Linked DNA regions of Homo sapiens: region 2 is linked to region 1. The links come from fine-mapping of genetic effects on gene expression. A gene starts in region 1. The other region holds a variant in brackets. All regions are shown on one strand. Distances are between the middles of the regions.

Region 1 (5,362 bases):
TCTTACTTCCATAGGAAATGTCATCCAAACTAGAAAAAGAACCATGATTTATGGGGAAAACTACAGTTTTTGCTATAAACCCTAAGACAGGAACTCTTCTGCAACTCACAGACTTAGCAAACCCAATCGTTGGCTCCAAACCTGAGGCTCTTTCTACTCTTACTCTCATTGCTGCTGGACCTCTAAGGTAAACATGGTCATAGATCTCTCCATACTTGTCCCTACTTTGGTCTCCCACTTCTCTCCTTCGGGGACCCTATTTCATCTTCATCTCTTCATGCATTAACCCCAGCCCCGAGATCCAAGCCCCATCACAGAACCACGCTCCCGGAAGGCATATTGAGTTCCACTTTCCATTATTAATCTCAGGCTGCCACAGCAGAGTGGAGAGTTCTGTTCCTGCCCAGCCCCCTCACCCCCTAGCAGTGTCCATGTGGGAGAAGAGGGGCAAATTCTAGGCTCTGGGTGATTCCTCCATGAAGGCTGTATTGGTGAGACTGGAGTACAGGCTGTGCCAGCATCCATGGGGAGAGAGTAGCAACGCTCAGCTATAATTAGTCACCCCCACAGCAGAGCCAGCACAACAGGGAGAAGGAGGAGGGTCTCTGGTGGGAGGAGGGACCACTGGCTGCTCAGAAGGGAGGAGGAAGGAGCAGATGCAAGGAAAAGCAGCTCTATTCAGGGAAAAAGAAGTCTGAAGCACAGCCTTCAATGCTGTCAGGACTGAAGAGGTCGGATGTATGAAAGCATCTAGGGTAGACAGCACACAGGAAGGCCCCGATACACGGAAGTTTCTTATACCCTGAAGTGAGAAGAATGTGGACCTGAACGTGGGTTGGGGGGGTACCCATACACAGGCACAAGAAGGCAGCAGCTTTAAGTGGGGAGCAGGGGAGAGCTGGAGGAAAAGTGGCAGTGTAGTTTCCCAAGGGAATGGACACTCGGACATGGTCTCCAGGGAAGGCTGCTTTTTCAGAACCAGGATGCCTGTGTTCTTGGGAGAACACCCTCCCCTCAATGTCCCCACACATCCTCACCAGCGACAGAGGTTTCTGGGAGGCTAGGGATTGGTGGGGGAGAGACCAGACTGAAGAGGGCCTACTGCAAGGGGAAGAGGGGAGCGGAGAGGGCAAAGGAGCCTACAGATGGAGTTGGGGAGAGCGGGGGACAGCCCTTCAGAAAGGCAAATCCTCAGAGCTCCCAGGGGAGAAGACAGGGACCTGGGACCCACAAGAAGCGATGCAGGAACTGGGCGAGAGCCCGGATTTGTGGAATCCAAACCTAAGTCCCAGCACCGTGCAAGAAGCCAGCCCCAATCTGAGGACCGAGGAGGTGGGGGTGTTGGGGGCGGGTCCGCCGCTGGCGGTCGGCCTGGCGCACGCACACACGCACTCACCGATTTTGGCCAGACTGGCCACCAGGATCCACAGGGCCACCAGGTAGGGCGCCTCCACCTCGTGCCACTGCCAGCGGAAGAGCTCTAAGCCTGGGGGAGGCTCGCCCGGGGACTCTGGCTTCTGGGTGGGCTCTTCGGCCGCCCCCGCCAGGGGCAGCGCGAGCAGGGACAGGGCGGCGCGCAGCATCCTGCCGCCTGCCCAGCCGCCCTCCCGGCACCGCACGGCCGCCGGCCCCGCGTCGCCGCCGCCACCTACCGGGCGCCCCCGCGTCACAGGCACGTGGGGCCCGCTCCCCCCAATCCCGGCTCCGATACCCCCAAGCCAGGTCCAGGCTCCGAGACCCTGCCTCGGACTCTCGTAGTCGGGGACTCTCTCCTCTTTCCTCCCTAAATCAGTCCCAGCTCCGGAAATTCCCCAGTGCAGCTCTCCCCCAAGTTCCACAACCTACTCCTTCGAGTCCGCGCCCCCAAACCTCCCCAAAACCGCCCCCACCAGATCCAGAGCGGTGCGCGGCCACGGCCCCCCTGGGGCAGCCCGCAGCGGGAAGGGCGGGGGTCTGCGGGGGGCGCGGTCAGGACGGGAGGGGCACGGCTCCTCCTCGGCCAGCGCTGCTGTGCGGCGAGCAGCACCCCCCTGGGACCAAGGCGCGGCCGGGTGCAAAACGCAGGGGACCGTGCTTGGCCGCCCTCCGCCCACGTTGCCAAGCCCAGGACCCCCTGCCGGCCCCCACCCGGACCTGAGCTGCGCACGCGCACTGGACGCTCCCCAAAGCAGTGACGGACAACGCTGCCCCCAACGTCCCAGAAACCCTAAGGCCCAGACTGGCCCAGCTCGTGCCAGGCGAAGAGGGAGGCTGTTCTTCATCTCCCAAACCAAGGGGCACCTGGCCCTCCCTTTCAGTCACACTACAGAGAACTGTCTCATCTCTTTGATGAAGCTGACAGGAACCTATGGAAAACCCAGCCTACTGATTCCCTTCAAACTAGGCGAGATGCACCCAACTTTTTCCAAATCTGAGGGGCATTCGGCTCATAGCGCCCCAAACAGAGGAGGACCGTCTCCACTTTTCATTCAGGCTGAGGGGCACCCATCCCACTTTTTCTCCAAAACTGAGGGGAACGTGTTCTATCTGCCCCCTCAAACTGACTCCTCCCAATCTTTTCCCAGAAAACTGAAGGGCATCCTTCCCTCTTCCTCCCACAACTAAAGGGAACTGATCCCACCTCTTCCTTCAAACTGGGTGGAATTTATTCTCACTTCTTGCTCCAAATTGAAGGGACCCCCTCTCACTGCTTTCCCTAAATGAGGAAACCACAGGGACTCACCCCTCAAATGGAAGGAATGAGGGCTATCTTGTCCCTCAACTGAGAGAGACCTGGCCGGCCACTATCTAAAGAAACTTCTGCCCCATCTGCCCTAACACCCCTCAAAGAGAACGCAGCCTCACTATCCCCAGACCAAAGAAAGCCTCCCCGCCTTCTGCGCGTTCTCGAAGGTGGGGCGCGAGCTCGGTTTTTCCCGCCCTCCTAGCCAGTGAACTAACGGGATTCCCATTGGGCCCTGTGAGTGGCTAGCGGCGGCCCCGCCTCCGGCAGTGGTTACCTCCTGGCGCGCACTCGGGGACTAATCTTGGCTCCACCCCCTTCCTCGGCCCCGCCTCCGTCTGGCCCCGCCCCTCCAGCCGCGTCCGGTCCGGCCGGGCCCGAACCGCGGAGCTACAGTGTGCTTTGAGTAGAAGCTGCACTGGGGCCGGGACTCGGAGGCGCGCTGCGTGAGCCGGCCGCAGAGCCATGGCGGGCGGGGAAGACCGCGGGGACGGAGAGCCGGTATCAGTGGTGACCGTGAGGGTGCAGTACCTGGAAGACACCGACCCCTTCGCATGTGCCAACTTTCCGGAGCCGCGCCGGGCCCCCACCTGCAGCCTGGACGGGGCGCTGCCCTTGGGCGCGCAGATACCCGCGGTGCACCGCCTGCTGGGAGCGCCGCTCAAGGTGAGGGAGGCCGGAGAAAGGTTGGGGCGATCGGGGGTTCAGGGTGGGCGCCATGAAAACTGGTGGGAGGTGCTCCGCGGGAAGAGGCTGGAGCGAGTGTTCTTCTCCGGAAAAGTCTTGGGCTGGGGTCCCAGGGTCCACTCTGCCCCGCCTGCGGGGGAGTCCCCTCTCAAGTTGAGGGGAAACTGAAGAGGGGTGCCAGGAACTTGGCTCCGCCATTCTGACTGCCCTTCGAATTAGGCGCACCTGGGGAGGTGCTCGAGTTCCACTCGCCGTCGGTCTGCCAGGGTGGCTTCCCTGGTCAGAGTGACGGTAGCCGCTTGGGCTGTAGCGGACCCTGGAGGCGGAGCTGGGGAGGGACCAGCTTCCACCTGCTTCAGGTGAGGTGGGGGCGGGACCACGAGGAGGGGCGGGCCCGAGGCGGACTACTAGAGGTGGCAGAGGTTTCCTGCGGTGTCAGGAAGCTGGATTGGGGCTTGACCCTGTAGGTCAATGGGAGTATGGGAGTGCCGGCCGAGGAGAGACTTCACGGGGTGAGGGGAGTCCCCGCGAAGCGGTCTGGCCCGGGATCCGCAGAGCGCAGGAGGCTGCACGGGTGTAAAAGCCCTTTGAGTCACCGCTCCCGCCCCCACCCCCGGACACTCGCCGCCCATCGGCCCGCGCCTGAAAGTGAGAGGGAGGGCCGGACTAATTTTAAACAGCCGGCCTGCCCTACTTTGCTGCCGCCCCGAAGCGGACTTGTGCACAGTGCGGAAAGAGGCCCTTTTCCAGATGGCCAGCCTACCTCCTCTCCCCTCCCTCTCGCCGCCGTCAGCCCCCCGCAGGCAGCCCTTTCCGGCGCGCTGTTTCCGGGCCAGGACTCTGGGAGGCGCACTACCACCTCCACAAGCTCCCCACCAGCCCGGCCGCCTCCAGTGCTGGAGAAGAGGAGAGAGAGTCGGGGTGGGTGCCCTCCCCTGCTCCCAGCCTCAGCTGGGCGGCGAGTTGCGTAAACTTGCCCCTTGGGCCTGGGGTCTTCCCTGGAATGTGCCCCGGGCCCCCAGCCCGCATTCCTCGCGCTGCGGCCAGCCCCGCCTCTGAGCGCTGGCGGGAGGGGTGGTGAGACTATTGGCCTGGAGAGTGGCACGTGTCCAGGCCAGAACCCCGGCTTCAAGGCCATGGCTGGAAGGATGCAGGACACTGCTCACCGCCAGTTTTGACTCAGCCCCCGCTTCTCTTGCCCTATTCAGAGGGGCAAATTGAGGTGTGCCTGGAAGAAGCGTGTGCAGCTGGAGGCCACCTCCCATTCAGGATGGGGGCTGGGAAGACAGGAGTGCTGAACTAAGACTGGTTCCCGCTTCCAGGCTCCTAAAGTCCGGATCCTGAAATAAGGGTGGGGCACTAGAGAATATATTGTATTCCTCTCATCCTGCAACTCAAGGATTGGACCTAGCCCTGACACCACCCCCCCGATTTTTTTTTTTTTAAGACGGATTCTGGCTCTGTCTCCCAGGCTGGAGTACAGTGGGGCTATCTTGGCTCACTGCAACCTCCACCTCCCGGGTTCTAGCAATTCTCGTGCCTCAGCCTTCCAAATAGCTGGGATTACAGGTGTGCGCCACCATACTCAGGTAATTTTTGTATTTTTAGTAGGGACAGGGTTTCTCCGTGTTGGCCAGCCTGGTCTCAAACTCCTGACCTCAGGTGATCTGCCTGCCTAAGCCTCCCAAAGTGCTGGGATTAAGGCTTGAGCCACCATGCCCAGCCCCTTGACACACCTCTTCCCAGCTGGGGGCAAGCCTGGGAAGTCAGCTGCAAGAAAGAGGCTCAGAACCACTCCTTCTATCTCCCTCTCATGGGACCCGTGTCCCCACCCAACCCTACCAGGTGCTCTGCCCTGTGTTCCCTGCTCCTTAGCTGAGGACACTACTGAGCTCCGGTGAAGAATATAAGTTCCTCATCCCCAATGCAGTCCTTCCTGGTCTCCCCGATTTC
Region 2 (5,362 bases), 330 kb before region 1:
CACTACTAAATACAAAAAATTAGCCGGGCATGATGGTGCATGCCTGTAGTCCCAGCTACTTGGGAGGCTGAGGCAGGAGAACTGCTTAAACCCAGGAGGCAGGAGGAGGTTGCAGTGAGCCAAGATTGTGCCACTGCACTCCAGACTGGGCAGTAAGAGCAAAACTCTGTCTAAAAAATAAAAAACAAAACAAAACAAAGACATGCATACTACACCCAAGAGCAATTAATGTACAGCCTCTACATTGTTTTTCTAGACATACACATTGATGCATGTTTTTCTGTCAAAAGAGATTTAAAAAATGAATGTATAAAATAATTAGCTACAGAATCAAATGCAGCAGGAAATTCTGGGAAACCCAAAGACTATTCAGAGCCAGTCTAGGGAAGAACAAAAAAGGCATAAGCACTTGTCCTACATCCATGACCTTAGGTGAATCACTTTGCGTCTTAGTTTTCTTATCTGTAAAATGAAGGGATTGACAGATGACTTAAATTTTCTTTTGGCTTTAATATCCTACAGTTTTATTAGGTTATCAATTTGAGTAATACTTATAGGTAAGAAGGGAACCAGTATCACCACTTTACAGTTTAAAAAAAAAAAGAAGACTGGCCAGATGCGGTGGCTCACGCCTGTAATCCCAGCACTTTGGGAGGCCAAGGCTGGTGGATCATGAGGTCAGGAGTTCAAGACCAGCCTGGCCAAGATGGTGAAACCCTGTCTCTACTAAAAGTACAAAAATTCCACCACGCCTGTAATCCCAGCTACTAGGGAGGCTGAGGCAGGAGAATCGCTTGAACCTGGGGGGCAGAGGTTGCGGTGAGCCGAGATCGTGCCACTGCACTCCAGCCTGGGTGACAGAGCGAGACTCCATCTCAAAAAAAAAAAAAAAAAAAAAGAAGACTTTTTTTTTTTGAGAAGGAGTTCCGTTCGTCATCCAGGCTGGAGCGCAATGGCACCATCTCAGCTCACTGCAACCTCCACCTCCCAAGTTGAAGCAACTCTCCTGCTTCAGTCTCCCGAGTAGCTGGGATTACAGGTGCCCACCACCATGCCCAGCTAGTCTCGAACTCCTGACCTCAGGTGATCCACCCACTTCGGCCTCCAAAGTGCTGGGATTACAGGCATGAGCCACTGCGCCCAGCTGAAGGCAGACATTTTTAAACGACTGCACACAGTGAGGCTGCACACAAGCATGAAGCAAAGAGTGGTTCTCTGGCTTTGCAGTCCCCTTGTCTGTAACCCAGAAATCAGACAGAAGTCTCCAAAACCTAGTTTTCGCTATGCACACCACTAATCGCTAATGCACACCACTCTACTGAGCAGCATTTACATCTGCAGTCCAAGAAATATAAAGCAGAATCCCTGTGTCAGGCAAAAATGCTACAACATAAAATACAACTTACCAGAATGCCCTTTTCTCCCTCCATTAGGATATGTTTTAAACTAGAAAAGCTGCCCGAAAGTCAAGGATTAATCACTGTATACTCTTGCTTACTACTCACCACACAGAGCATCAAGATATATGCTCTTTTGTTTTTTTTTTTTTGAGACCAAAACTCACTCTGTCGCCCAGGCTGGAGTGCAATGGAGCAATCTTGGCTCACGGCAACCTCCACCTTCCAGGTTCAAGTGATTCTCCTGCCTCGGCCTCCCGAGTGGCTGAGATTATAGGCATGCCCCACTACACCCGGCTAAGTTTTGTATTTTCAGTAGAGACAGGGTTTCACCATGTTGGCCAGGCTGGTCTTGAACTCTTGACCTCAGGTGATCCACCTGCCTCAGCCTCCCAAGGTGCTGGGATTACAGGCGTGAGCCACCGCGCCTGGCTAGATATATACTCTTTTCCTCAAAAACCCTCAGCAACCTAGGACATTTTAGGACTCATTTCCTCCTTCCTTATTGGGGAAGATAATGTGTATCATCTACTTCTTTCAAAATAAGAAGTAGGCTGGGCGCCATGGCTCATGCCTGTAATCCTAGCACTTTGAGAGGCCAAGGCTGGAGGATCACTTGAGGTCAGGAGTTAAGAGACCAGCATGGCCAACATGGTGAAACCTCATCTCTACTAAAAATACAAAAAATTAGCCAGGCGTGGTAGTTGGTGCCTGTAATCCCAGCTACTTGGGAGGTTGAGGCAGGAAAATCACTTGAACCTGGGAGGCGGAGGTTGCAGTGAGCCGAGATCGCACCACTGCACTCCATCCAGCCTGTGCAACAGAGCAAAACTCCGTCTCAAAAAAAAAAAAAAAGAAAAATAAGAAAAAAAAGAAATTGGAGATTTAAGTTCAGTGTGTGAAAAATGTGTAGAGTATTTACAGCTATATAC[G/A]TGATAGGATAATCTACATAGCTGTTAACTAAGACAGACCTCTATGTCACCCTATCTGTAAGTCATTAAACCAGCAAATATCTACCACTTAGAAAACAAGAACAGGACCAAAAAAGGTTTGATTAAAAAAAAAATCTCAAAGTCTATGCACTCAAATTTACAATAAACTTGGCTCTCAGAGTCAATGTTCATATTTTATTTAATTTATTTTTTTGACACAGAGTCTCACTCTGTTGCCCAGGATGGAGTGCAGTGGCGCGATCTCGGCTCACTGCAACCTCTGCCTCCCAGGTTCAAGTGATTCTTGTGCCTGAGCCTCCCAAGTAGCTGGGATTACAGGCACCCACCACCATATTCGGCTGATTTTTATATTTTTAGTAGAGACCGAGTTTCATCATGTCGCCCAAGCTGGTCTTAAACTCCTGAACTCAAGCGATCCGTTCGCCTCAGCCTCACAAAGTACTGGGATTACAGGCATGAGCCACCCTGCCTGGCCAATGCTCGTATTTTAGAAATAATTCAATTAATGAGGAATAGGTAGAAACAACATACTAGAGGCAAAAAGTCAGGGCAAACAAGGACTGCTATGCCCAAAGGAACAGTTCAGAAAACTAAAGCATGCACACATGCCACTTAACATCCAACAACAAAGTTCCTACTAATTTGAAGTAACAGAAGATTTTTTTTTTTTTTTTTGAGACGGAGTCTTGCTCTGTGGCCCAGGCTGGAGTGCAGTGGCACGATCTCGGCTCACTGCAAGCTCCGTTCATGCCATTCTCCTGCCTCAGCCTCCCCAGTAGCTGGGACTACAGGTGCCCACCACCACACCCAGCTAATTTTTTGTTTTAGTAGAGACGGGGTTTCACCGTATTAGCCAGGATGGTCTCCATCTCCTGACCTCGTGATCCGCCAGCCTCGGCCTCCCAAAGTGCTGGGATTACAGGCATGAGCCACTGCACCCGGCCAACAAAAGATATCTAACAGAGGCTGTGTGAGGTGGCTCACACCTGTAACCCCAGCACTTTCGGACGCTGAGGCAGGTGGATCAACATCAGCCCAGTCAACATGACAAAACGCTGTCTCCACTAAAAACACAAAAATTAGCGCTGTGTGCTATGGCTCACGTCTGTAATCCCAACACTTTGGGAGGCCGAGGTGGGTGGATCACCTGAGGTCAGGAGTTCTAGACCAGCCTGGCCAACGTGATAAAACCTCATCTCTACTAAAAGTACATGATTAGCCGGGTGTGGTGGTGCACGACTGTAATCCCATCTACTCCGGAGGCTAACGAAGGAGAATCGCTTGAACCTGGGAGGCGGAGGTTGTAGCGAGCCAAGATCGTGCCACCACACTCCAGACTGGACAACAGAGGAAGACTCTGTCTGAAAAAGATAAATAAAATAAAAATAAAATAAAATAAGCCAGGCCTAGTGGAGCATGTCTGTAATCCCAGCTACTTGGGAGGCTAAGGCACAAGAATCACTTGACCCCAGGAGGCAGAGGTAGCAGTGAGCCTAGATCATGCCACTGCACTCCAGCACGGGAGACGGAGTGAGACTGTCTCAAAAAAAAAAAAAAGAAAAAGATCATCTAACAGGAAAAACGTTCACAACACGCAGCAAGGTTACAAAGGAGGATGCAGAATAGGATTCCAACCTAATTAAAAATAAGTAAGGCCGGGCCAGGTGCAGTGGCTCACGCCTGTAATCCCAGCACTCTGGGAGGCCGAGGCAGGTGGATCAGGAGGTCAGCAGATCGAGACCATCCTGGCTAACACGGTGAAACCCCGTCTCTACTAAAAACACAAAAAATTAGCTGGGTGCGGTGGCGGGTGCCTGTAGTCCCAGCTTCTCGGGAGGCTGAGGCAGGAGAATGGCGTGAACCCGGGAGGTGGAGCTTGCAGTGAGCCAAGATAGCGCCACTGCACTCCCGCGTGGGCGAAAGAGCGAGATTCCATCTCAAAAATAAATAAATAAATAAAAAATAAGTAAATCCTGGTGCGGTGGCTCACGCCTGTAATCCCAGCACTTTGGGAGGCCGACGTGGGTGGATCACCTGAGGTCAGGAGTTCTAGACCAGCCTGGCCAACATGGTGAATCCCTGTCTCTACTAAAAAAAAAAAAAAAAAAAAAAATTTGGCCAGGCGTTGGGGCAGGTGCCTCTACTAAAAGTACAAAATTAGCCGAGTGTGGTGGTGCACGCCTGTAATCCCAGCTACTCTGGAGGCCGAGGCAGGAGAATCACTTGAACCCGGGAAGCAGAGGCTGCAGTGAGCTGAGATTGAGCCACTGCACTCCAGCCTGGTGGACAAGAGCGAGACTTCGTCTCAAAAATAATAAATAAATAAATAAATACATAAATAAATAAAATAAAAATAAAATACATAAATAATTAAAAAACTAAGCTGGGCATGGTGGCTCACACCTGTAATCCCAACACCTTGGATGGCCTGGGAGGAGGGGATTGCTTGAGGCCAGGAGTTGAAGGCCAGCCTGGGCAACACAGTAAGACCCCATCTTTACAAAAAAAATTAGCTGGGCCTGGTGATACGCACCTACACTCCTAGCTACTCAGGAGCTTGAGGCCAGATGATCACTTAAGGCCAGGAGTTCAAGGTTATAGTGAGCTATGATCACACCACAGCACTCTAGCCTGGGCAACAGAGCGAGAGTCTGTCTCTAAATTAATTTAAAATAATCATTATAATTTAACAAACTAGACAAACAGCAATCCCAGTTATCCCACCTTAAGTCAGGACAGCATTACATCTTGCATGGACCAATGCAATGGCCTTCTAAACAGTTTCCCTGCTTCCCCTCTTGCTCCATTACCCACCATTTTTCACACAGCGGCCACGGATTTCTAAAATGTAAATCCATTATCAGCAAGAAGACTTCCCTTCTGAAACCACCATGCTGAAAACTCTTAAAGTCCAAACTCTTTCACATGGCCTACCAAGTGCTTCAGGGCCCTATCAGCAGATCTGCATCCAGCCTGACATACTCGCCTCTAATCACACTGAACTTCTTTCAG

The links. PIP is the estimated chance that this variant, and not a neighbour inherited with it, causes the effect. A credible set is the group of variants that fine-mapping cannot tell apart.
Region 2: its variant is the best candidate, but not a certain one, in a credible set for the expression of FHOD1 in whole blood (TOPMed, PIP 0.74).

The regions. Positions count from the first base shown.
Region 1 is chr16:67,245,236-67,250,597 of GRCh38, reverse strand. FHOD1 (formin homology 2 domain containing 1) reads left to right here and starts at 3,117. Exons shown (of 22, transcript NM_013241.3): 1 at 3,117-3,388. The coding sequence starts at 3,188. It overlaps SLC9A5 (solute carrier family 9 member A5), which reads right to left and starts at 1,619. Exons shown (of 16, transcript NM_004594.3): 1 at 1,397-1,619. The coding sequence starts at 1,583. RefSeq lists enhancers at 881-1,380, 1,381-1,882, 4,283-4,942 and silencers at 1,558-1,667, 1,968-2,057, 2,078-2,167, 2,810-3,179, 4,080-4,179.
Region 2 is chr16:67,579,874-67,585,235 of GRCh38, reverse strand. The region is part of intron 2 of CTCF (CCCTC-binding factor); the gene reads right to left. Among named protein-coding and RNA genes, the nearest start is that of CTCF, 20 kb to the right of the region's middle. The variant G/A (reference allele first, on the strand shown) is at 2,330.